Linked DNA regions of Homo sapiens: all the other regions are linked to region 1. Evidence: fine-mapped expression QTL. A gene starts in region 1. Each other region holds a variant in brackets. All regions are shown on one strand. Distances are from middle to middle. Region 1 holds the start of PGPEP1L (pyroglutamyl-peptidase I like). Region 2 overlaps PGPEP1L (pyroglutamyl-peptidase I like). Region 3 overlaps PGPEP1L (pyroglutamyl-peptidase I like).

Region 1 (10,909 bases):
ATGTACTGTATGATTTCATTTATATATTTGTGTTTTTTATTTTTGCTTGTTTGCTTTTTGAGACAGAGTCTCACCCTGTCACGTAGGCTGGAGTGCAGTGGTGTGATCTCAGCTCACTGCAACCTCCGCCTCCTGGGTTCAAGCAATTCTCCTGCCTCAGCCTCCTAAGTAGCTGGGGTTACAGGTGCCCATCACCATGCCCAGCTAATTTTTGTATTTTTAGTAGAGATGGGGTTTCACTATGTTGGCCAGGCTGGTCTCGAACTCCTGCCCTAAGTGATCCACCCCTCTGGGCTTCTCAAAGTGCTGGGATTATAGGCATAAGCCATCGCACCTGGCCCTATTTTTATTTTCAGACAGGATCTCACTCTGTCATGCAGGCTGGAGTGTAGTACCACGATCATAGCTTACTGCAGCTTCCATCTCCTGGGCTCAAGTGATCCTTCCACGTCAGCCTCCCGAGTAGCTGGGACCACAGGTGCATGCCACCATGTCTGATTAATTTTTTGTATTTTTGCCAGGTTTCCCAGGCTGCCCTCGAACTCCTGGTCTCAGGTGATCTGCCCATCTCAACCTCCCAAAGTGCTGGGATTACAGGTGTGAGTCATTGTACCCAGCCTACATAAAATATTTGTAAAATAAAATGATTATACAGATGGAGAACAGACTAATGGTTGCCAGGTGTTTGAGATGGGAGGAAGCGGGTGGGTGTGGCTGTAAAGAGCTAGCACGAGTGAGCTTTGTGGTGATGGTACTGCTAGGTATCTTGATTGTGGTGGTGGTGATAGGAAGCTACACTAGCTGAAATTACACACACACACGCACACATACTGCAAGCACAAATTTTGAATTATACCAATGTCAATATCCTGGCTTTTATATTGAAAATGTTAATATGTCAATATCAGGAGAGGCTGGGTAAAGGGTACAGGGAACCTCTGTACACTTCTTGGCAAATTCCTATATTTATTTCAAAATAAAAAGTTTTAAAAAGTGTGTGGCCTCCTGTGTGGGAGACTAGCCAGTGCCAGATATGCCTGTGATGGAGTCAGGTGCTCAATTAAGTGGGCTGCAGATACAAGTGGAATTCTCTAACTCAGCTTTATCCCGGAGTACAGCTGAGGTTTTCAGTTCCACCTCTGATTCCTGTGACATTTCCACCTCTGATTCCTGTGACATATTTCTCAAGTCATTCATATTCTTTGATGAGGAAAGGGCTGTGACTAAATGTCAGTCTCTGAGAACCCAGCTCCCTGGACCTCAGGCCTTTAGACTAGGAACCAGTTCTGGAGAGAAACTTGAATTATACCTTTGCAATTCCTGAACATCTGGGTCTAGACCCACAAACAGGGTTGGCTCATGAGGAAGTAAAAACTTTCTGAGGGAATGAAACAGTTTTGGACAGAACGTCCCAAAAAGCCCATGGTGTCCTCTGATTCAACCAAATCCTTCAGAATAAATAAGACTTTAGCTGCCCTTGGAAACAGCCAGAAAAAAAAAAGGGCAGTTATAGAAAATAGTGAGATTAAAAAAAAAAAAAAGCACTGAGAAGCCAGGTACCTCCTGGGATAATAAAAATACAATAAAAATGCAGCAACACACACAAAAATCACATTCTGCTTTAGAATCATATTTGTATCAGCAAATATGACATCTCTTATCTGTTTTAAATTAGAAAAATCAACTCTGCAAGTGAAGGTTTGAAGCTCTTGTGTTTCAAGTTCAAACCTCACTTTAAACTTGGTCAGCCCCCAGTGCAACTTGCAAACGGAGCTGGAGAAATCTTAGAATTCTGAGAGGCCCGTGGGAGGGATGCACGTTTTCTCACTCTTGTGGTTATCGTTGGTGCCAGTCTGAACACTTTGATCTCGAAGCAATTTGTCGGAGCCCTCGTTCTCCCACCATCTGTCTACATGCCAATTGTCTTGAGGAGATTTACACACGAAGCAAATCCAATTAAATGAAGAGACTGCCCCTGGCAGCTCTAAGCATTTCTAACACAGGAAGGCCACGCTCTGGAATCCAGCGGGCATTCCCAAATCATGGCTGATTATCAGGTATTTCATCAAACAATTTCCAGTTTGCCAGCAAACCACAGGCTGACAAGACAAAGGCAGGGGTCAGTGTGATTCTAAGATGGTGCTTCAATGTTCATATTTCATTCATGACAAGCATTGCATGCATTAGAGTACAGTTTCCTTAGGAATTCAAGAGTAATTTGAACCATTCAATCTCCAGAACCAAAATAACACAAATAAGAGCAAGGGAGATAAAAGGTTTCCCAAAGAACTTTTTCTCTGAAGGTCGATAGGAGTTAGAATTATAGTCTGAAAAGATTAAGCGACACAACTTTCAATTTCCCATTCATCCAGGAAACCCTGCCTCTTCATCCAACACAATTCAGAAAACTTAAAACCGGCCAAATGTGTCTAACTAAAAATGAAGGCTGGACATGATGGCTCATGCCTGTAATCCCTGCATTTTGGGAGGCCAAGGCGGGAGGATCACTTCAGCCCGGGAGTTAGAGACCAGTCTGGGGAATACAGGAAAACCCTGTTTCTACTAAAAACTAAAATAAAATAAATTGGGGGGTGTGGTGGTGAGTGCCTGTTGTCCCAGCTACTCCAGAGGCTGAGGTGGGAGGATTACTTGAGCCCAGGAGTTTGAGGCTGCAGTGAGTTATGACTGAGCCACTGCACTCCAGTCTGGACAACAGAGGGAGACTGTCTCAGAAAAATTAAAAATATAAAAATAAAAATAGGGCCAGGCGCAGTGGCTCATGCCTGTAGTCCCAGCACTTTGGGAGGCCTAGGCGGGCAGATCACAAGGTCAAGAGATCGAAACCATCCTGGCCAACATGGTGAAACCCCATCTCTACTAAAAATACAAAAATTAGCTGGGCGTGGTGGTGCGTACCTGTAGTCCCAGCTACTCGGGAGGCTGAGGCAGGAGAATCGCTTGAACCCAGGAGGCGGAGGCTGCAGTGAGCTGAGCTTACGCCACTGCACTCTAGCCTAGCGACAGAACAAGACTCTGTCTCAAAAAAAAATTAATAAAAATAAAGACCTTTGTGAAGATCAGGCCCCCAGGGACCAGCTGGGATGCTGACTTGGTGAGGCAAGTGTGGGTGGGGGTGACTCTGGATGTGCTGGTGTTTGCAGGAGTGAGCAGCCACCATTCCTTCCAAGTTGACCTTCTGGGGCTCAGGGTCTCCAGCTAGTGGCTCTCGGGGGGTGCTTCACAGCTCCCTGAAAAATGGAAGTTCTTACTCTGGAAGTGGGGACTGTGTGTTCCTTTGCGGGTGGCTGTTGTAGATGGGTTTGCAAGCCTTGTGAGGGCCCTGTGGTTTCTGGGCGTATAGATCCCTCTTCCTTGCTATGAGCCTGCACCCCCAAGGGATACCTCACGTGCCTCGGGCCCCACTCAGGGAAAACAGGTACCAGCCTCAGCTTCCTCCCTGCTGGGTTGAAAGGCAAGGTCTGAGCCTAAGCCACCAGTGGCACCTTCGTGCCCGCCACTCGAGAGTTACTTGAAGCGAATGAGCCACAGAAGCAGAAATGCCTGTGATCCTGATTGTTTATTAATAGGGCACAGCAGCAAGTTCGTTTCCATCTGGAATTATTAGCACCACCAGTTGCCATTCTTTTTTTCCCTCAGGGAACTATTTAAGACCCAGGATCAGGCCAGTGCGCATTCCAGGGGCAGGCTAAAAGCAGCAACAAATAGGAGAGAAAAAAATTATGTAGTCTTACCAGTCACCACCACGCAGCTGGGCTGGGAATCCATGAAGACGAAGTGGGAGCTCGCGCTGCGCCTCCCTGGCTCAGGCAGCGGCCCAGCGGCCGGGCTCTGCGCGCTCTGAGCTCCGGGCACCTTCTCTGCCTGGCCGCGTGCTCGCCGGGGACCGGGGTGGAGCGGGAGCCCAACCCCTCCTGGCCGCCCGGCGTCCGTAGCGTTCTGGGCCCCGAAAGGCCAAGGATCTAGGGGAGGGTGATAAAGCAATGCCCCTTGAAAGCAGAACGATCCAGCTCAGGACAGCGGGTTGGAGCGCCAGCAGGGACTTTCTGGACATTTGAGTCTGGGTCACTTTGTTGTTCAGGATGGTTCAAAGGTGAGCTAAGGGTTTGGCTACCAGCTGTCCCGGTTTGCCTGGGACAGAAGGATGTCTGGGACGGAACACCACATGGTGCTCAAAGAGGTACTGTCCTAGGAACTGTGGGCTACCCTACAAGTCGTTTACTTAGATCTTATTTTTTCCTCTTTAGTAATCCCTGCCAGAGCCCCTCATTGTGTTTGGCCATTATGATTTGGTAAAATTTGATTGCTCTGAAAACTAATTCCACAAAATATGTGAGATGTGAGCAGAAAAAAAAGAGAGAAAACCATAGATGAATCTTATGGCGCCTGCCTTTAAAATATTGATTGCAAGCACCGCTGCCTAGGAGCTGTGGGTCCTCAGGGAAGTTAACCTCTGTGCTCAGGTTTCCTGTTTTGAGAAACGAGGATCGCAGCACCGGATCCTGTATGGATTCTTTCTGTGCCCCAGGCACTGTCCCCAGCTTCATCAGCCCTGAGGAACAGAGGCTTGCCACCTAGCTAGCGTCTGTGCAAGCTTGCTAGCTCTGTGCTCACCACCCTGCGTTCTACCTGCGAAAAGTGCTTTCTTGACACTGTGCTGGACTCCTTAAACATGCCACTGACAGTGAGCCACAGCCGTGGCATGCCACCTGGCTCTGCAGACAGTCCTCTTTTTAATGTGTCAGAATAACTGAAAAAGGCTAACATTTGAGGCTATTTCCTCTATCGAAAAAGCTGTTTTCCAATATCTTGATCTTTCGGAGAATTCTATTTAAAAACAAAACAAACTTTTGGCCAGGTGCACTGGCTCACGCCTTTAATTTCAGCATTTTGAGAGGCCAAGGTAGGAGGATAGCCTGAGGCCAGGAGTTCAAGATCAACCTGGGCAACGTGGCAAGACTGCATCAATTATTTTTTTCAAAACGTGGTATATGCCCATAGTCCTGGCTTCTCAGGGAGGCTGAAGCGGGAGGATCACTTGAGCCGTCAGTCGTAACTGCACCTCTGCACTCCACCCTGGGTGACAGAGTGAGACCCTGTCTCTAAAAATATTCTTAAACTTTTTTTTAAACTGAAAATACTTTTTTCCTGAAGCTGTATATTAAGAGGAAGAAGACCCATGATTCTCTGTCCCCATCTAGGTCTGGGGAGGAGAAGCTCCCTTCAGGGAAGCAGGCAGAGCCTCTCAAGCACCCTGCGGCCTCTAGAGAGCTCAGTGTGACAGCAGGACCACGTGGCTCCATCTGCTGAATTGTCCTCCTGATATAAAGCGCTCCCTTTTAATTGGGATCACCCCCGCGGATTAGACCCCCCTTGGTGGCTTTCTGGGATTCTGAACCAGGAACAATTCCCTTTAATTAGCTCCTGGTGTGGGCTGCAGGCCTCTTCACTGCCAACAGGTGGGAAGCGCCATTTGCTCCCACTAGTCTCCCACTCCCTGTCCTGAGAAGCTGGGCCCACCTTGCCATGAGTGGGATGCAGAGGATTTTTGTACTTTGCCTCATTTCACAGAAGTTACCCGGTTTCTCAATATACCCCGGATGCACTTGTAGACTTGGTCTCTACCTCCTCTGGTGAGCAGCTCTCCTAGCTCCTATCACTTACCTAGTTCCGTCATGGTGTGTCCAGAATCGGCGGATTCTTGGTCTCACTGACTTCAAGAACGAAGCCGCGGACCCTGGCGGTGAGTGTTACAGTTTTTAAAGGCAGCGTGTCCCAAGTTTGTTTCTTCTGATGCTCGCATGTGTTCGGAGTTTCTTCCTTCTGGCAGATTCGTGATCTCGCTGACTTCAGGAGTGAAGCTACGGACCTTCATCATGAGTGCTACGGCTCTTAAGGTGGCGTGTTTGGAGTTATTCGTTTCTCCCGGTGGGTCCGTGATGTGGCTGGCTTTAAGAACGAAGCTGCAGACCTTCACGGTGAGCGTTACAGCTCATAAAGGCAGTGCGGACCCAAACAGTAAGCAGCAGCAACGGTTATTGCAAACAAGCAAAACAACAAAACTTCCACAGCACAGAAGGCGACTCCAGCAAGTTGCTACTGCTACCTGGGGCAGCCTGCTTTTATTCTCTTATCTGGCCCCACCCACATCCTGCTGATTGGTCCATTTTACAGAGAGCCGATTGGTCTGTTTTACAGAGAGCTGATTGGTCCGTTTTGACAGGGTGCTGATGGGTGCGTTTACAATCCTGGAGCTGGACACAAAAGTTCTCCACGTCCCCACTAGATTAGCTAGATACAGAGTGTGGACACAAAGGTTCTCCAAGTCCCCACCAGAGTAGCTAGATACAGAGCGTCGATTGGTGCATTCACAAACCCTGAGCTAGACACAGGGTGCTGATTGGTGTGTTTACAAACCTTGAGCTAGATACAGAGTGCCCATTGGTGTATTTACAATCCCTTAGTTAAACATAAAGGTTCTCCAAGTCCCTTCCAGACTCAGAAGCCCAGCTGGCTTCACCCAGTGGATCCCGCACCAGGGCCGCAGGTGGAGCTGCCTGCCAGTCCTGTGCAGTGCGCCTGCACTCCTCAGCCGTTGGGTGGTCGATGGGACTGGGTCCTGTGGAGCAGGGGGCGGCACTCGTGGGGGAGGCTCAGGCCGCGCAGGAGCCCATGACGCGGGGGAGGAGGCTCAGGTATGGCGGGCTGCAGGTCCCGAGCCATGCCCCGCACGGAGGCAGCTAAGGCCCCGCGAGAAGTCGAGCACTAACAGCTGCTGGCCCAGGTGCTAAGCCCCTCACTGCCCGTGGCCGGCGGGGCGGGCTGGCTGCTTGGAGTGCGGGGCCCGCCGAGCCCACGCCCACCCGGAACTCGCACTGGCGCGCAAGCGCGGCGTGCAGCCCCGGTTCCCGCCCGCGTCTCTCCCTCCACACCTCCCCGCAAGCTGAGGGAGCCGGCTCTGGCTTTGGCCAGCCCAGGAAGGGGCTCCCACAGTGCAGCGGCGGGCTGAAGGGCTCCTCAAGTGCCGTTAAAGTGGGAGCCCAGGCAGAGGAGCCGAGAGTGAGTGACGGCTGCGAGGCCTACCAGCATGTTGTCACCTCTCAGTGGGGGCTTGGCTTCCTCTGCACAGTTAAAGGAAGAGATTGGACCATTAAGAAATGCCCACTTCTTCTTTTTTTTTTTTTTTCAGATGTAGTCTCGCTCTGTTGCCCAGGCTGGAGTGCAGTGGCGCGATCTCGGCTCACTGCAGCCTCCGCCTCCCAGGTTCAAGCAGTTCTCTCCCTCAGCCTCCGGAGTAGCTGGGATTACAGGCACCTGCCACCAGCCCTGGCTATTTTTTGTATTTTTAGTAGAGACAGAGTTTGACCATCTTGGCCAGGCTGGTCTTGAACTCCTGACCTCGTGATCCACCTGCCTCGGCCTCCCAAAGTGCTGTGATTACAGGCGTGAGCCACCGCGCCCGTCCAGAAATGCCCACATTTGTAAAGTTGGTTGCTGCTAGGGTCCAACTCTGCTATCAACATTCACCTATGAGGTCTGGGAATGGGAACTTGTGTTTAAGGAGACTCCTTAAGTGCAAAGACTGCCCATCTTTAACCATACTACTTTTCTGATAACAAAGCTGAAATTTTCATCATTTTTTTTTTGATTTGACAGGAGCTATTATTTTAACTAAACTGGAATGTGTCCTGCAGTTTTCACTTTCCCATAATTCACTTATTTTTTTCTGTTCTAAAGTTTTCTCTAATTTTGAAATTAATAGAAAAAACAACACAAAATATTTTACTTAGTCACAGTGATATGTCTATTTTTGTATTCATTCACCTCCCCTCTCCCCACACAAGAACCCCCCAGCACATTCCTACTTTCTGGAATGAAAATAGCTCTGAGAAGTATGGATTTTGAGGTTCAACATCTGCACTTTTATTTCTTTTTCCATTGTAAAAACAAATGGTCTCTAATAATTGATGTCAAACACAGTCTTTAGGCTGATGAAATACAGTAAGCCTGAGAACGAATAAGGCAACTAAATGGAGCTGTTTTATTTAACAGAGAGCACAGTGATCTTCCTTACAAGCGGGATTCCCGAGAGGAAAATGTTTGTAATCAGATTTGACTCTAGGATTAAGAGGGCAAGGTGCGACCCTCTTAGTGAACCGGAAAGTAAGCAACGGTACACAAGTGTTCTCACCAGGGACAGCAAATGGGAGTTGCCAAGATTACAAGATCCCAAGACCTCAACTATTTCACGTGCTGAACTAAACTCAAAACTTTGTGGGATTTGTTTTAAATTTCTCATTGGCAAGTGGTGACTTCCTGCTCTCGCAAGAAAAAAGATTAAAGGGGTTTGTTTACTGTCTCTGACACAAACAGCTCTTACAACACATTTTGTACACTTGACATAAATGAAATTTAATCAAACTGGTCAAATTCCTTTGGGAGGTGGGGAGAAAATAAATCAATCAGCAAGAAGCACTTGTGATTTCCAAAATAATGATAACATAAGTCTTTCTCCATGTCAAACATCACTGTTTCCAGATAAGCGACTTAGCTCTACTATAAAACACAACCCATAGCCAAATTGCTTCTTGTCAAAGCACTAAGGGATCCTCCAATAATGTCACTCTACCAAGGCAGATTCAGAACTCACCCTCCTCTATACCTCTGCCTCTGCAGCTTTGTACCCCAGCAGGGGCCAGCCAGCACACGATTTCTGAAAAGGGCCATAAAATAAATGAATAAATGTAGTAGACTTTTTTTTTTTTTTTTTTGAGACAGGGTCTCACTCTGTGGCCCAAGCTGGAGTGCAGTGGTGCAATCTCGGTTCACTGCAACCTCCGCCTCCCGGTTCAAGCAATTCTCGTGCCTCAGCCTCCTGAGTAGCTGGGATTACAGGTGTGCACCACCACACCCGGCTAATTTTAGTAGTGCCTGTAGTCGCAGCTAATCGGGAGGCTGAGGGAGGAGAATGGCGTGAACCTGGGAGGCAGAGCTTGCAGTGAGCCGAAATCGCATGCTGCACTCCAGCCTGGGCGACAGAGTGAGACTCTGTCGCAAGGTGATATTTCTGTTACATTTTGTAGGAGAAGGATTTGTCTTTATTTTTCTTCTGTCTTATATTTTTCCCTCAGACTTTTGCTAAGCCTTGATCACTTTTTTTTTTAGGGACTACAGCTCCTTGACTGCAAAGTAACAACTGTTGCAAAAGGAAGTTTTCTACTTGTTAAAATCCAGTAGCTTGTTACCCCTATTGTTTAAATACTGGATTTTTCTTTCAAATTTCACAAATATCTTAGGAATGACTGGAACATTTGTGTTCTTAACACTGAGGAAATTCCTGTGTAGACAAATGAGGCCAGATGGAGGGTGCAGCAGAGAGCTTAATATCCTCTTGGAATGGAAGAGGGGCCACACTAAAACATGCACCAGGCCTTCGAGGGGCCGCTATTTTCCAGTATACACATGTAAGAGGCATTTTTCTTTTTTTCTTGACTGGGGCCAAAGGTAACTTTCGTGTCAGAAGTGAGTGCTAAGTGGCTGAGTAGGTTTGAGGAAGGCTTAGCGATCCAGCTTATTTATAGACAATCCGATTATAATATTTATGATCATTGATTTTTAAAAATTACTGGACCTCTTAAAAATGGTTAGATATGAGACTGGTATATACTGAAGCTAATAGCTTTCTCTTTTTAAAGAGATAGTGTTTCTCTCTGACGACACACAGGCTGGAGTGCAGTGGCACTGTCAGAGCTCACTGCATCCTCAAACTCCTGAGCTCAAGCGATCTTCCTGCCTCAGCCTTCTGTGTAGCTGGGACCACAGGTGTGTGCCACCATGCTTGGCTAATTTTTCAATTTTTTTTTTTTTGTAGAGATGGAGTCTTGCTATGTTGCTCAGGCTGGTCTTGAACTCTTGGCCTTAACCAATCCTCCTGCCTTGGCCTCCCAAAGTGTTGGGATTACAGGTGGGAGCCACCTCTCAGGGCCTAAGAGTTTTCTTATATATCAGCAATAACTAATTCTAATGTAATTGGAGAAAAGAGCCCATCCACAATGCCCTTCAAATATCAGAAATCTCTAGGAATAAACCTGGCAAGAAATGTATGAGATCCTTTTGTGGAAAACTGTGGAACTGGCGGGGTGCGGTGGCTCACGCTAGTAATCCCAGCACTTTGGGAGGCCGAGGCAGGTGGATCACCTGAGGTCAGGAGTTCCAGACAAGCCTGGCCAACATGGTGAAACCCTGTTCTCTACTAAAAATACAAAAATTAGCTGGGCGCGGTGGCTCACGCTAGTAACCCCAGCACTTTGGGAGGCCAACGCAGGTGGATCACCTGAGGTCAGGAGTTCCAGACAAGCCTGGCCAACATGGTGAAACCCCATCTCTACTAAAAATACAAAAATTAGCCAGGTGTAGTGGTTCATGCCTGTAATCCTAGCTACTTAGGAGGCTGAGGCAGGAGAATCACTTGAACCCAGGAGGAGGAGGTTGCAGTGAGCCGAGATCGCACCATTGCACTCCAGCCTGGGCAACAAGAGTGAAACTCTGTCTCAAAAAAAAAAAAAAGAAAAAGAAAAGAAAAAAGAAAAGAAAACTGTGGGACTTTAAGAAAAAAACATAGAAGACCCGAATAAAACAAAGGATGCCATGTTCTGTAATGGGAAGATTCGAAACTTTAAAAATGTTAATGCAAACCGATGTTAAAGACTAGATGCAACTGGCTTGCCTTCCCAGATATCCAAATATATGCTAAAAGCTAGGGTAATTAAAATAGTGCAGTGTTGTTGTAGAAATAGGAAAACTGTCAATAAAACAGCTAGAATGTGTATGAGAATTTAATATATAGTTAAAGAGATAATTCAAATTAGTAGCGGAAAGAATATACCATTTA
Region 2 (8,309 bases), 41 kb before region 1:
TCCTGGTGACAGTGACCCGCCGTGGTATGCCTTGGCCCATTCCAGCAGTCCCAGTTATGCATTTCAAGTTTGGGGTTTGTTCTTTTCGTTAATGTTCCTCTGTGTTGTCAGCTGTCTTCATTTCCTGGGCTAAGCAGCATTGGGAGATGTGGACCAGAGATCCACTCCTTAAGAACCAGTGGCGAAAGACACTTTCTTTCTTCACTCTGAAGTAGCTGGTGGTACAAATGAGAACTTCAAGAGAGGATGTTATTTAGACTGAACCTCTGTTGCCAGAGATGCTGAAGATACAGACCTTGGACAGGTCAGAGGGTTTCATTTTTGGCCTTCATCTTAGATGACTGGTTGCGTCATTTGGAGAAGTGAGTGCTCCTTGATGGTGGAATGACCGGGTGGTGGGTACAGAACCATTGTCACAGGGATCCTGGCACAGAGAAGAGTTACGAGCAGCAGGGTGCAGGGCTTGGAAGGAATGTGGGCAAGGTTTTGAACTTGATTGTTCTTGAAGCTATCAGACCACATCGAGGCTCAGCAGTCATCCGTGGGCATTTGGTTTCAACAAAGAAACCTAACATCCTACTCTGGAAACTGATCTCGGAGTTAAGGCGAATTGTTCAAGAACACAAACTACATCGCACTCGTCAGTTGTCAGTTCTGGGGCATGACTTTAGCGTTTTGTTTCTGCGAGAACATAACGATCACTCATTTTTATGTCCCACGTGTGTGTGTCCGCATCTTTCTGGTCAACATTGTTTTAACTAGTCACTCATTAGCGTTTTCAATAGGGCTCTTAAGTCCAGTAGATTACGGGTAGTCAGTTGACGAAGATCTGGTTTACAAGAACTAATTAAATGTTTCATTGCATTTTTGTAAGAACAGAATAATTTTATAAAATGTTTGTAGTTTATAATTGCCGAAAATAATTTAAAGACACTTTTTTTTTCTCTGTGTGTGCAAATGTGTGTTTGTGATCCATTTTTTTTTTTTTTTTTTAGGACACCTGTTTACTAGCTAGCTTTACAATATGCCAAAAAAGGATTTCTCCCTGACCCCATCCGTGGTTCACCCTCTTTTCCCCCCATGCTTTTTGCCCTAGTTTATAACAAAGGAATGATGATGATTTAAAAAGTAGTTCTGTATCTTCAGTATCTTGGTCTTCCAGAACCCTCTGGTTGGGAAGGGGATCATTTTTTACTGGTCATTTCCCTTTGGAGTGTAGCTACTTTAACAGATGGAAAGAACCTCATTGGCCATGGAAACAGCCGAGGTGTTGGAGCCCAGCAGTGCATGGCACCGTTCGGCATCTGGCTTGATTGGTCTGGCTGCCGTCATTGTCAGCACAGTGCCATGGACATGGGAAGACTTGACTGCACAGCCAATGGTTTTCATGATGATTACAGCATACACAGTGATCACATAAACGATGACAGCTATGGGGCACACAGGCCATTTGCTTACATGCCTCGTATCATGACTGATTACTGCTTTGTTAGAACACAGAAGAGACCCTATTTTATTTAAGGCAGAACCCCGAAGATACGTATTTCCAATACAGAAAAGAATTTTTAATAAAAACTATAACATACACAAAAATTGGTTTTAAAGTTGACTCCACTTCCTCTAACTCCAGTGGATTGTTGGCCATGTCTCCCCAACTCCACAATATCTCTATCATGGGAAACACCTGGGGTTTTTGCGCTACATAGGAGAAAGATCTGGAAACTATTTGGGTTTTGTTTTCAACTTTTCATTTGGATGTTTGGCGTTGCACACACACATCCACCGGTGGAAGAGACGCCCGGTGAAAACACCTGTCTGCTTTCTAAGCCAGTGAGGTTGAGGTGAGAGGTTTGCCAGAGTTTGTCTACCTCTGGGTATCCCTTTGTCTGGGATAAAAAAAATCAAACCAGAAGGCGGGATGGAATGGATGCACCGCAAATAATGCATTTTCTGAGTTTTCTTGTTAAAAAAAAATTTTTTTAAGTAAGAAAAAAAAAGGTAATAACATGGCCAATTTGTTACATAAAATGACTTTCTGTGTATAAATTATTCCTAAAAAATCCTGTTTATATAAAAAATCAGTAGATGAAAAAAATTTCAAAATGTTTTTGTATATTCTGTTGTAAGAATTTATTCCTGTTATTGCGATATACTCTGGATTCTTTACATAATGGAAAAAAGAAACTGTCTATTTTGAATGGCTGAAGCTAAGGCAACGTTAGTTTCTCTTACTCTGCTTTTTTCTAGTAAAGTACTACATGGTTTAAGTTAAATAAAATAATTCTGTATGCATTTCTGTCTCTGGTTTGGTTTTGTCCCTCCTGGAAGCATCACTACACTTTGGTGGCAGGGAAGCTGAGCTATGTGGGGCACGTGTGTTCACGCATGTTGCCTGGAAGCGTTCTCCAGAAAAGCATTGCCTCTTCTCTGACAGCTGAGCTTTCTCAGCATGCAGATTGCCAGTAAAGACGACAGGGAAGCTATCTGTTTCTCCCTCCATTAAATCATCTGGAAAGAAATTTGAATACATAAATTACGAAACTCTGTACTGCAGTTCCGACTGATTTGTAGACTTTTTTCCTATACCTTCCACTAACAACAGTCAGGCCAAGGCAAGTCTGATCTGCATGACCCCAAGGCAGAGGACTTCAGTTCTTCACATTTCCCATGTGCTTTTTGGTCTTTCACAGCTGACATGCCCACCTCGGGGGGATGCTGGTGAGAACCCAGTGGGCCTCACGCAGAATGTGGGTCACTGGAGGAGCTCCAAAGTCCTAGTTACTTTCTAGCTGCTGCTCAGTGATCTCTGTCTGCCCCTAGGGACCCTACAATGTAAACATTATTTTTGTCAGGGGAAATGGCATGTATGGCAAGGTGTGTTCTAGAATCAGACTAAGGATTCAGACACATCAGGCAGAGAAGCTGGTCATTTCCTTCAACTTTATCATGGGAAATTATGCTCCAATAGCAAAATCGGGCCAGTAGAAGAAGAGCTGTCCAGCAATGTATAGGTAGAAGTAAACCGAAGACCATGGTTACTTCAGACCTGTTGAGCCTCAGAAGTGTTTGCACCTAAAAGCAAAGGCCTTTCTGAAAGGGGACTCTCAGCTGGGGTGCGGTGGCTCACGCATGTAATCCCAGCACTTTGGGAGGCTGAGGTGGGTGGATCACATGAGGTCAGGAGTTCAAGACCAGCCTGGCTAACATGGTAAAACCCCATCTCTACTAAAAATACAAAAAATTAGTGGGACATGGTGGCGGGTGCCTGTAATCCCAGCTACTTGGGAGGGTGAGGCAGGAGAATCTCTTGAACTCAGGAGGCAGAAGCTGCAGTGAGCCAAGATTGTGCCACTGTACTGCAGCCTGGGTGACAGAGTAGGACTCTGTCTCAAAAAGGGTACTCAAGCTTGGCATTGCTTCAGGGTTACTGCTCAGTGTTGTCACCGAGTGCCTGGCACTCAGGGGATCTTCATTAGGTGACTGATGATGAGGAGGTCTCAATTCTGAGGCTGGAAAGCCCAACAGGGCCTCCTCCTTCCCTGGTCAGGTAGATGCTGCCCTTCCAGGTTGCCACAGTGCAGTCTGCACTTGGCCTGCCCAGCCAGAAGGAGCAGCAATATCTAAGGATGAAGGTGCTGGGTCTTCAGAAGCATTAGAACCTTTCCCCTCCAGGCCATTTCTTAAGACTGCAAGCCCTCAAGAGCTATTTCTGCATTTACCCCCCAAGTCCAGGTATGAGTCCATACTCACTCAGATGTGTGATTTTTGTAGTGTTCTAATGTTGCTAAAAAGACCTTCACATCCATTCTCTCACCAGATGTTCACAATCACCCTGCAAAGGAAGGATTTTAATTACTCTTACAGATGAGCAAACATACAGGCATGCTCAAGACCCCTCCCCCGCCCCCCCACCTCCCCACCAGCTACCAACTCAGGACTCAGCCTCTCAGCCTTTTCTGCTGTGGTTCTCAATCTGGCTTCAGCACTGCCAGAACTAAGCAGGCTCTGTGCATACTGACAAGGGATGCTGGGTGAAGTACACAGCCCAGGTGTGAATGAGACTTCTGGGGTTCTCCCTGGAGAACTTCAGGGGCCACAGCGGGGGGAAATGATGGGGAAGTTCTTGAAGAGGGAGCTCTGGGCCTCCCAACTGGATAATATCTAAAAATTTAAAAAATGTTATGGCATGCTGCCAGGCAGTCTGAAATATAACACTGGAGCCCAGTCCTGGGGGCCCCTTGCTTGCCAGTGTCCTGGGACAGAATTGCCCATAGCAGAGACAGATCTCCACATTAGCAACCATGCAGCCAGACCTGTGCACACCGCCCAGCACCACCTCCCCCCATCCCCCAATATGTGGGCTTTGATCTGTTTTCTAGCAAATGATCCAGGTGTACTTGCAAAGGGAGTCCCCTAAAGGCTACTCCAAATGCAAAAAGCGTGCTGGCGGCCTTGACTGCTTCCTTTGGTTTTCTTGTGGGTTTTTGTTTGTTTTTTTTTTTTTTTTTGAGACACAGTTTTGTTCTTATTGACCAGGCTGGAGTGCAATAGTGCAATCTCGGCTCACTGCAACCTCCGCCTCCTGGGTTCAAGCGATTCCCCTGCCTCGGCCTCCCAAGTAGCTGGGATTATAGGCACCCACCACCACACCCGGCTAATGTTTTTGTAATTGTAGTAGAGACTGGGTTTCACATGTTGGTCAGGCTGGTCTTGAACTCCTGGCCTCAAGTGATCCGCCCACCTCAGCCTCCCAAAGTGCTGGGATTATAGGTGTGAGCCACTGCGCCTGGCCTGGTTCCTTTGTTAGGAAGCTGCAAATGCTTTTCTTAATAGTGAATGAATCCAAACACTAACTGATGAATTTTTTAAATGTAGTCAAGTGAAAAATGGTAGTTGTAAGCACACCAACGTAACAAGAAATTTCCCAGAGCTCACCTACCTTCACTCACTTCCTCCAAAAAAAAAAAAAAAAGCGATGTTACCAATGGGACTCCCAAAGGAAATCTGCCCCTAGAAAACACTGAACAGGTAGAATCTTGCTGGGAGAAGCTTGGCACAAGACCCGGTGCTGTGTCATAAAAGCAAAACAAAACATGAAACAGAAAGGAGATTCTGCTTTTAAAAAGGGAAGACACCATGGAGAGAAGCTAAGCCCGGCTATTAACCTGCGCCTTCAAACCAAACACTACCAGTGTGACTGTAAAATGGTGCAGCCCCTGTGCAAAACAAAATGGCAGTTCCTTAAAAAATTAAACACAGAATTAGCATTGAATCCAGGAATTCACCTCTGGAGATTGACCTGAAAGCAAGGACTCGGATACATATTTGCACGCCAGTGTTTGTAGCAGCATGATTTGCAAGAACCAAAAGGAGCAAGTAACGTAAGTGTTCATCTACAGCTGAATGGATGAAATGTGGTCCATACATACACTGGAATATTATTCAGCCTTCAACAGAATGAAATCCTGTCCCATGCTACAACATGGATGAACCTGGAGGACATGAGGCTGAAATAATACGCCAGATGTAGAAGGACCAGCGCCGCATGACTCCCTCATATGAGCTACCTACAGTCAGATTCATAGGGATGGAGGGTGGAGTGGTGAGCACCAAGTGCTGGGAGGAAGAAGGAATAGGGAGTTAATAGGTACAGAGTTTCAGTTTGGGATGAGGAGAAAGTTCTGGAGATGGATGGTGGTGATGGTTGTACAACAAGGAAATGTACTGTATACTACTGAACTGTATGCTTGAAATTATTAAAATGAGTAGTAAAAGGGGCAAACACAGAGACAGAGAAATCATACAGTAGAGCCTCGGTGGCTTCGAGGCTACCCAGGACCTGGACACACAAGCTCAAAGGCCAGGAATGGGGTCCCTGGAGCAGCGGCTGTCTCTGTGCTTCTGTAAGCATCTCCAAAACAGGTCTGTGGTCCCCACAGTCTGCGCAGGATCACACAGACCCACTGTGTAGATTTTTGGAAGAAAACAGATGACTCGGATTTCATTTTATTGTCATGAAAACCATAACTGAAGCTAGTTCATCCCCTGTGAAATGTCCACCTTTCAGAGTGTTCTTTCTCCTGACAATAAAATAACCCTTTGTGATTTTGTTGGGCTAATTCAGAGTTTTCCACCCTCTTTGTCTTACAAGCAATTTTTGAAAAAGTTTCTCAATGCACAGTTGAGTGCTACATACAGGATTGAAACATTCAATTTTCTCTAGAGGAGCAATCCCCCGGTCAGTTCCCTTTGGCTGGAAGGACCATGGTTGAGTTTTCTTCGAACTGGGCTCTGTGCTTGGGCTTTCCCACCTCTTCCAGCATTTCCTGGATGATG[A/AC]CTCTCAAGGCTCTTCCCAGCAGGCTGGCCGGGAGCCCGCGCGATAGTGGAGGGACATGGATGAGTGCCGCGCAGCCCTTTCCATGATGCAGAGACAGGTAATAGGTATAATCACAGACGTATCTGCAACCACAGGAAATGCCACATTAATTCTCGGACCAGCCTCTAACCTCAGTGAAACATACGCAGAAGTGGCAATGCAACACCCACAAAGCCTGAGGAGGGAGCACTGCCACCCAAGGGAGACTTGTGTTGTTTCACCTCAGAAAGAACATGGTGCCAGGATGAGCTGGGGAGAGCTGGCTCTTGGCCTCATGGCCTCATGACCGGCAAGTGGCCAAGGCAGAAAGGGGTCAGATATTCCACAGCACCTGCATCCCAGTGAATCCCTCTCATTCATGTCTTCGTTGAGTCACTTACTCATTCATTCACTGGGGAAAGGGGAAAAACCACCTACTGGGGATCGGAGTTTGGAGAAACAAAGGTAAATCAATCTTTATCTGGGGCTACATCAACACAGTTAACTCACAACTTCGGTCACCCCAAAAATCAAAATCAGAAAACATTCACGAAATGTTAGTGGCTCTTGAAGTCTGCCTTCCCATCTCTTCTCCTAGATCAACACACCAAAGACCGTGTTTCCACAGGCAGGTCTCACAAACGAGACCTCAGGCAAGGTGTGAGCAACTGTGCTGGCCTGCACACAGCAAAGAGGGGCAATCTGGGGGCGGCACCGCATGGCCAAGTGGCCAGCTGGACGATACAGGATGGCTTCTTGGAGGTCGGGGGGACGCTGACGGCCATTGCTTCTCTCCTACCTGCTCAGAGTCCTGACACCCACAGAGCATACCTGCCTGCATCTCGGGAAAAGATCACGTCGACACCCTCCACAGCTACGCGCTTGCAGACTGCCTTCATGCAGACCCCTGACTCCAGCACGTCTGGGCTGCCAGGTAGGCACACGCCGCCCTCGGGCCAGAAGCTGCGGATGTCGGCGTCCCGGTAGCCTTGGTTCTTGCCAGACTGTTCCAGAATGATCGCCTTGGCGGCGGTGTCCATGCCCACATGCACGACGAGCTGTGTGAACGGGTAACAGCAGAGAGAACCCAGGAAAACGAGGCCCACCCTGCTCACCAAATGTGCAGAAGGGGCCACTCCTTTTGAGAGCCCGGCTCTGTGCAAAACATCTCAAACCCCAAATCCACTGGGAAACCCCAGGATCCCCCACCAGTGTCTCCTAATTAATATGGCTGGAAAGAAAAACAGCTGGATTCTTTTAGCTGAATAAAAACTCATGCTGCATTTACATTTAAATGCTTTTTACTTCAAATTATTCTTACAGGGTAATGTATTCTCTTTTTGTGGGGGGAGGGTTGGAGGGAGGAGAGGCAAGCTAGTAAGTGGTGAGGCTACCACAGCAGAGTCTTCGTGTTTTGGTGGAATCCTGAATCTTTTTATTTTATATTTTATTTATGTATTTATTTATTTTTATGAGACAGAGTCTGGCTGTATCACCCAGGCTGGAGTGCAATGGCACCATCTCAGCTCCCTGCAACCTCTGCCTCCCGGGTTCAAGTGATTATCCTGCCTCAGCCTCCCGAGTAGCGGGGACTACAGGTGCACCACGCCCAGCTAATTTTTGTATTTGTAGTAGAGATGGGATTTCACCATGTTGGCCAGGCTGGTCTCAAACTCCTGACCTCAAGTGATCCGCCTGCCTCGGCCTCCCAAAGTGCTGGGATTATAGGTGGGAGCCACCGTGCCCGCCTCCTGCATCTTTTTTTAAATGAAACTTTAATAAAGGAAGTTAGTGGCCATCCAGTGAAATCTTCTTAGAATTTATTCAAGCTGATTATTTTTCCTTTTTGAAAAATAGCTGCCCAAGTATGTTATCAAAACATCTGGGGCATTGTCTGAATGGCTTGATAGTGTATGTTTTATTAACCTCATCACATCTGGTCCTTGTTTGGGGT
Region 3 (5,000 bases), 28 kb before region 1:
CTTGTACACTTTAAAGGGTTAAAATGGTAAATTTAATGTTATACATCAATGTTATACATATTTTACCATAATTTTAAGAAAATTATGGCTTTCACCATCACCAACATTTTTTAACCTGACTAAAAAGTTTGCTCTGAACGAAGACTAAATCCGTAGTAAATCATTTAGCTCAGGCTAACATCCCTCAGGGATAATAATTAAGTTGGGATTTTAACTAAGCATACTCTTTTCCATATCTGAAAGCCTTCTAGAGTTCTATGGAATCACAATCTAAAAGTCATTTTCTCATATCACAACAATAAAATCTGAAGCCTAACAGTATTTAAGCTGCTGGTTTGCTGAAAATGTCTCAGGACTTGAGGTGTCCTGAAGAGAAATCATTATGGATGGCAATTATTCCCATATAAATGCTGTATTGCAAAAACCCAGATCAAAACATAGATGTTTTCCTAGGAACAGAAGAGGCAAGGAGGGGCAGTGGCCACTCCAGAATTTTCTGGTGGCTGAGGCCTGAGCACGGTGAGCTGGCTGGAGGAGGGCATGGTCTTGGTAAGGGAAGCTCATGAGTAGATTATGTTTACTTGCTGCATCTCAGAGACATGAGTAAAGACATGAAAATTTTAGTGGAGATAATACATTTTTACAGATTATTATTTTATTTCACTGAATTATCACAGCAACCTTTCAAGTTAACAAGAGGAGAAACAAGGAGGGCCTGGTCAACTTGGGCCTCATGCTCCTCACCTGTATAATGGGTACAACAATACTGTATCCACCATAATGATTATTAGGACCCTAGAGAGGTCAAGTAAAATGGCAAAAAAAAAAAAAAAAAAACAAGTCTGTAGTGACTTTGATAAGAGTAGTTTGAGTATGGAACCAGGCCTGGAGGCCAGGCCATGGTAAATATATTTAAAAGTTAATAGAAATGGTCTTTTATTTTTTTTCTTGATCAATCTAAATGAAGGTTTATCAATTTTATTAATTTTCTCAAAATATTAACTTTTGGGTTTTGGTTTGATTTCTATTGTTATATTTCTGCTACTTCATTGATTTCTGCTTTCATCTTTACTATTACCTTTCTTCTGCTTAGTTTAATTTGTTCTGTTAGTTTCTTAAGATAGAAATCAAAGTCACTGATTTGAGAACTTTCTTCTGCTATAATATTGTTTAGTGCCATAAATTTCCCTCTGATATGTTTTAATTTTCATTCATTTCAAAATGCTTGCTAATTTCCTTTTTATGTCTCCTTTCATCTCTGGCTTATTTAGAAGTATCTTGTTTGGTTTCCAAAATTTAGGAAATTTCCAGATGTCTGTTATTGATTTCTAATTAAAATCCACTGTGGCCAGAGAACACACTTTATGTGACCTGAATCCTTTTGAATTTATTCAGACTGGTTTTATGGCCCAGGGTATAGTCTCTGTCTTGGCAAACACTGCATATGCACATATGAGAGTGTGTTCCATGCTGGGTGGAGTGTTCTACAAATGTCAATGAGGTCTGGTAGGTTGGTAGTGTTGTTAAAGTCTGCTGTATCCTTTTTGGTCTATGTGTTCTGTCCGTTATTGAGAGGGGTACTGAAATCGTTGACTATTAACTGTGAATTTATCTATTCTCCTTAAAGTTCTATTAGTTTTTGCTGCACGTATTTTACAAGCACTGTTATTAGGAGCATGAATGTTTACATCTATTATGTCTTATTTATTGACCATGGTTCATTGAATGCTTAATACCTAATTGCTACACGACATTCTGACTCCACATTGTGAGCTCTAGAACACAGCTCTCAAGGGAGGTAAAGGTCAGGAATAGTCTTACAAGTGGGCAAAAAATAGGGTGAGCCCAGCAGGCTGTTGGCTGAGGGCTGCTGCCCAAAAGGCATCTTGTGGCTCCCCAACCATTTCCCCATCTCTTGGGGACCCAGTGCCTGAAATTTCACCTCCAGAGATCTTTTCGGTTCATTAGTCCCTGTCTAGATAATTTTGCAAATGCCTGCAAGAGAGGAAACACAGCAGCACACATGCTTCCCTGATGAAAGAGAAGGCGCTGTGTGTGAGCACTAGGGCCCAGAGTGGAACCCGAAACTGGGAGAGTCGGGGCACCCCTGAGAGGTGCAACTTCCCAAGGCTGGTCTGGGGTATGGAGTAATCATCTGTGATTACAGATGTCAGTGTAGAGTCCAGGGACCTAATTAATGGCATCTCAAACTGGCTCACAGCCTGCAGGCCCAGGCAGGCCTACTGG[A/C]TTTTGGAATCCCAGATTTGGCATCTGTAATGTAATGCTGACATTTTTCAAGATTTGTACCATGGAAGTGGATGTGAGGATGGAGATGAGAAAAGGTTTGCCCAGTAGACTTCCCTTTTTTGTTTTTTCCCCAAAAAAAACTGTGTAGAACGGAAAAGAACTAAGACTTATCTTCTGAATCCTGGACCAAATTAGACATTCTGCTGCCCTAAGTAACCTGCCTGATTTCCAGGGCCCCACTTATTTGTGTCTTTTTCTCTAGCATTAGACTGTGTATATATATATATATATATATTTTTTTTTTTTTTTTTTTTTTGAGGCACAGTCTTGCTCTGTCACCAGGCTGGAGTGCGGTGGCATGATCTCGGCTCACCGCAACCTCCGCCTCCCGGGTTCAAGCAATTCTCCTGCCTCAGCCTCCCGAGTAGCTGGGACTACAGGCACGCGCCATCACGCCCAGTTAATTTTTGTGTTTTTAGTAGAGATGGGGTTTTACCATGTTGGCCAGGATGGTCTCGATCTCTTGACCTCGTGATCCGCCCACCTTGGCCTCCCAAACTGCCGGGATTACAGGTGTGAGCCGCCGCGCCTGGCTACAGGATATATATATATATATATTTTTATTACATTTATGGCAGCACAAATATAGCCCCAATGCCCTCAAGATTCTGGTCTGGATTCTGTGAAACAAGATAAACAGGTCAGACTGTTTCCCATGCTGACAGAGTGCGTAACCCAGGAAGGATGTGATGGATTTCATCAAATCTAAGTCCCAGAGATGGAACATCGAGCATTACTGTACGAACCAGCAAGACAGTAAAAGTACTGCTCAACTATGACAAAGCATAAGATGCAGCTGCCTGTGAGATTCATCTGATTTCAGGATGCCAAAATTAAAACAAAAAAAAAACCAAAAAACACCTGGCTCTTTGCATCAATAAAATATGGTAGGCGATGAGTACAAGAACAGGAGGACATGCACATAGCAACACAGCACAGACTTCTATATATAAGTAGTGTGGTTATTTAATAAGTGCCCAACAATTTGCAATTGCAGAAATGTGAAACCAGCCCAAATTCCCATCAATCAATGAGTGGATAAAGAAACTGCGGTATATAGATAGGATGGAATACTACTCAGCCATAAAAAGAAATGTATTAATGGCATTTATAGCAACCTGGATGGGATTGGAGACTATTCTTTTTTTTTTTTTTTTTTTTTTTTTTTTTTTTTTGGAGACAGAGTCTCACTCTGTCACCCAGGCTGGCGTGCCATGGCACAATCTTGGCTCACCGCAACTCTGCCTCCCGGGTTCAAGCGATTCTTCTGCCTCAGCCACCACAGTAGCTGGGACTACAGGCGAGTGCCACCACACCCGGCTAATTTTTGTATTTTTAGTAGAGATGGGGTTTTACCATATTGACCAGGCTGGTCTCGAACTCCTGACCTTGTGATCTGCCTGCCTCGGAGACTATTATTCTAAGTGAAGTAACTCAGGAATGGAAAACCAAACACCATATGTCCTCACTCATAAGTGGGAGCTAAGCTATGAGGATGCAAAGGCATAAGAATGATACAATGGACACTGGGGACTCGATGGGAAAGGGTGGGAAGCAGGTGAGGGATGAAAGACTACAAATTGGGTTCATGTATACTGCTTGGGTGATGCTGCACCAAAATCTCACAAATCACCACTAAAGAACTTACTCATGTGACCAAATACCACCTGTTCCCCAAAAACTTATGAAAATAAAGAATAAATAAATGAAAAGTGTCCAACTTAGTCTAACTTTTAATACAGCTAAACACACAGCCATAAAAACAAAGTGTGGACTCGTGCCATTTCCCTTGGAGCAGAGAAACCTGAACGATCAGGGAGGCATTGTCCTAGGATAGTAAAGGGAGGAGGGGGGAGGAAAAGGTTTCAGGAGGAGACAGACTTTCAAAAGGAAACAAGCCATAGGCCAAAATATGAGAAATAAATATTCATGAGTCCATCCTGATCTAATGAAATGACTACATACATAAGTAAACAAATAAGTAAGTGGGTCCAGGAGGAGGACTCAGCTCTCTCATGCACTTGCACTCCCAGTAACCGATGTAACTCCTCTACCCTGAAGCAGAGAGGAACTCCCCCACTCGAGTGTGGGCTGCGCAGAGTTACTTCCTTCCAAAGAGGACAGGATAGAAGTGGGGACAAAAAGTAACTGTATGGTGGCCAGGTGCAGTGGCTCACGCCTGTAATCCCAGCACTTTGGGAGGCCGAGGTGGACGGATCACCTGAGGTCAGGAGTTTGAGACCAGCCTGGCCAAAAGAGTGAAACCCCGTCGCTACTAAAAATACAAAAATTAGCCAGGCGTGGTGGCATGTGCCTGTAGTCCCAGCTGTTCAGGAGGCTGAGCCAGGAGAATTGCTCGAACCTGGGGGGCAGAGCTTGCACTGAGCCAAGATCACCCCCACTGCACACTAGCCTCAGTGACACAGAGAGACTCCATCTGGAAAAGGAAAAAAAAAAAAATTAACTGTATGGTAGAGAGGCCTGACAAACACTCCCTCCACCAAGTAAGATCAAGGTCATCATGGACAGTGCTGTCACACTGATACTGTGTGCCCTTGATCTGACAGGATGAAAGTGACACTTTACCTCTGTCTTCCTCCCCCTAACCTCAGTCTGATCATGAGAAAAGCAGCAGAAAAGTCCCAATTGAGGAACAAACTATCAATTCCTGGCCAGACTCTTCAAAACCATCA

What was found. PIP is the estimated chance that this variant, and not a neighbour inherited with it, causes the effect.
Region 2: its variant is the best candidate, but not a certain one, in a credible set for the expression of PGPEP1L in esophagus muscle (GTEx, PIP 0.56).
Region 3: its variant is the best candidate, but not a certain one, in a credible set for the expression of PGPEP1L in atrial appendage (GTEx, PIP 0.88).

What each region holds. Positions count from the first base shown.
Region 1 is chr15:99,001,677-99,012,585 of GRCh38, forward strand. It overlaps PGPEP1L (pyroglutamyl-peptidase I like), which reads right to left and starts at 6,116. Exons shown (of 5, transcript NM_001167902.2): 1 at 5,683-6,116; 2 at 3,753-3,980.
Region 2 is chr15:98,962,239-98,970,547 of GRCh38, forward strand. PGPEP1L (pyroglutamyl-peptidase I like) reads right to left here. Exons shown (of 5, transcript NM_001167902.2): 4 at 7,187-7,413; 5 at 5,991-6,459. The coding sequence starts at 7,395. The coding sequence ends at 6,240. IGF1R (insulin like growth factor 1 receptor) reads left to right here. Exons shown (of 21, transcript NM_000875.5): 21 at 1-2,292. Among named protein-coding and RNA genes, the nearest start is that of PGPEP1L, 41 kb to the right of the region's middle. The variant A/AC (reference allele first, on the strand shown) is at 6,337.
Region 3 is chr15:98,976,186-98,981,185 of GRCh38, forward strand. All of the region lies in intron 2 of PGPEP1L (pyroglutamyl-peptidase I like), which reads right to left. Among named protein-coding and RNA genes, the nearest start is that of PGPEP1L, 29 kb to the right of the region's middle. The variant A/C (reference allele first, on the strand shown) is at 2,248.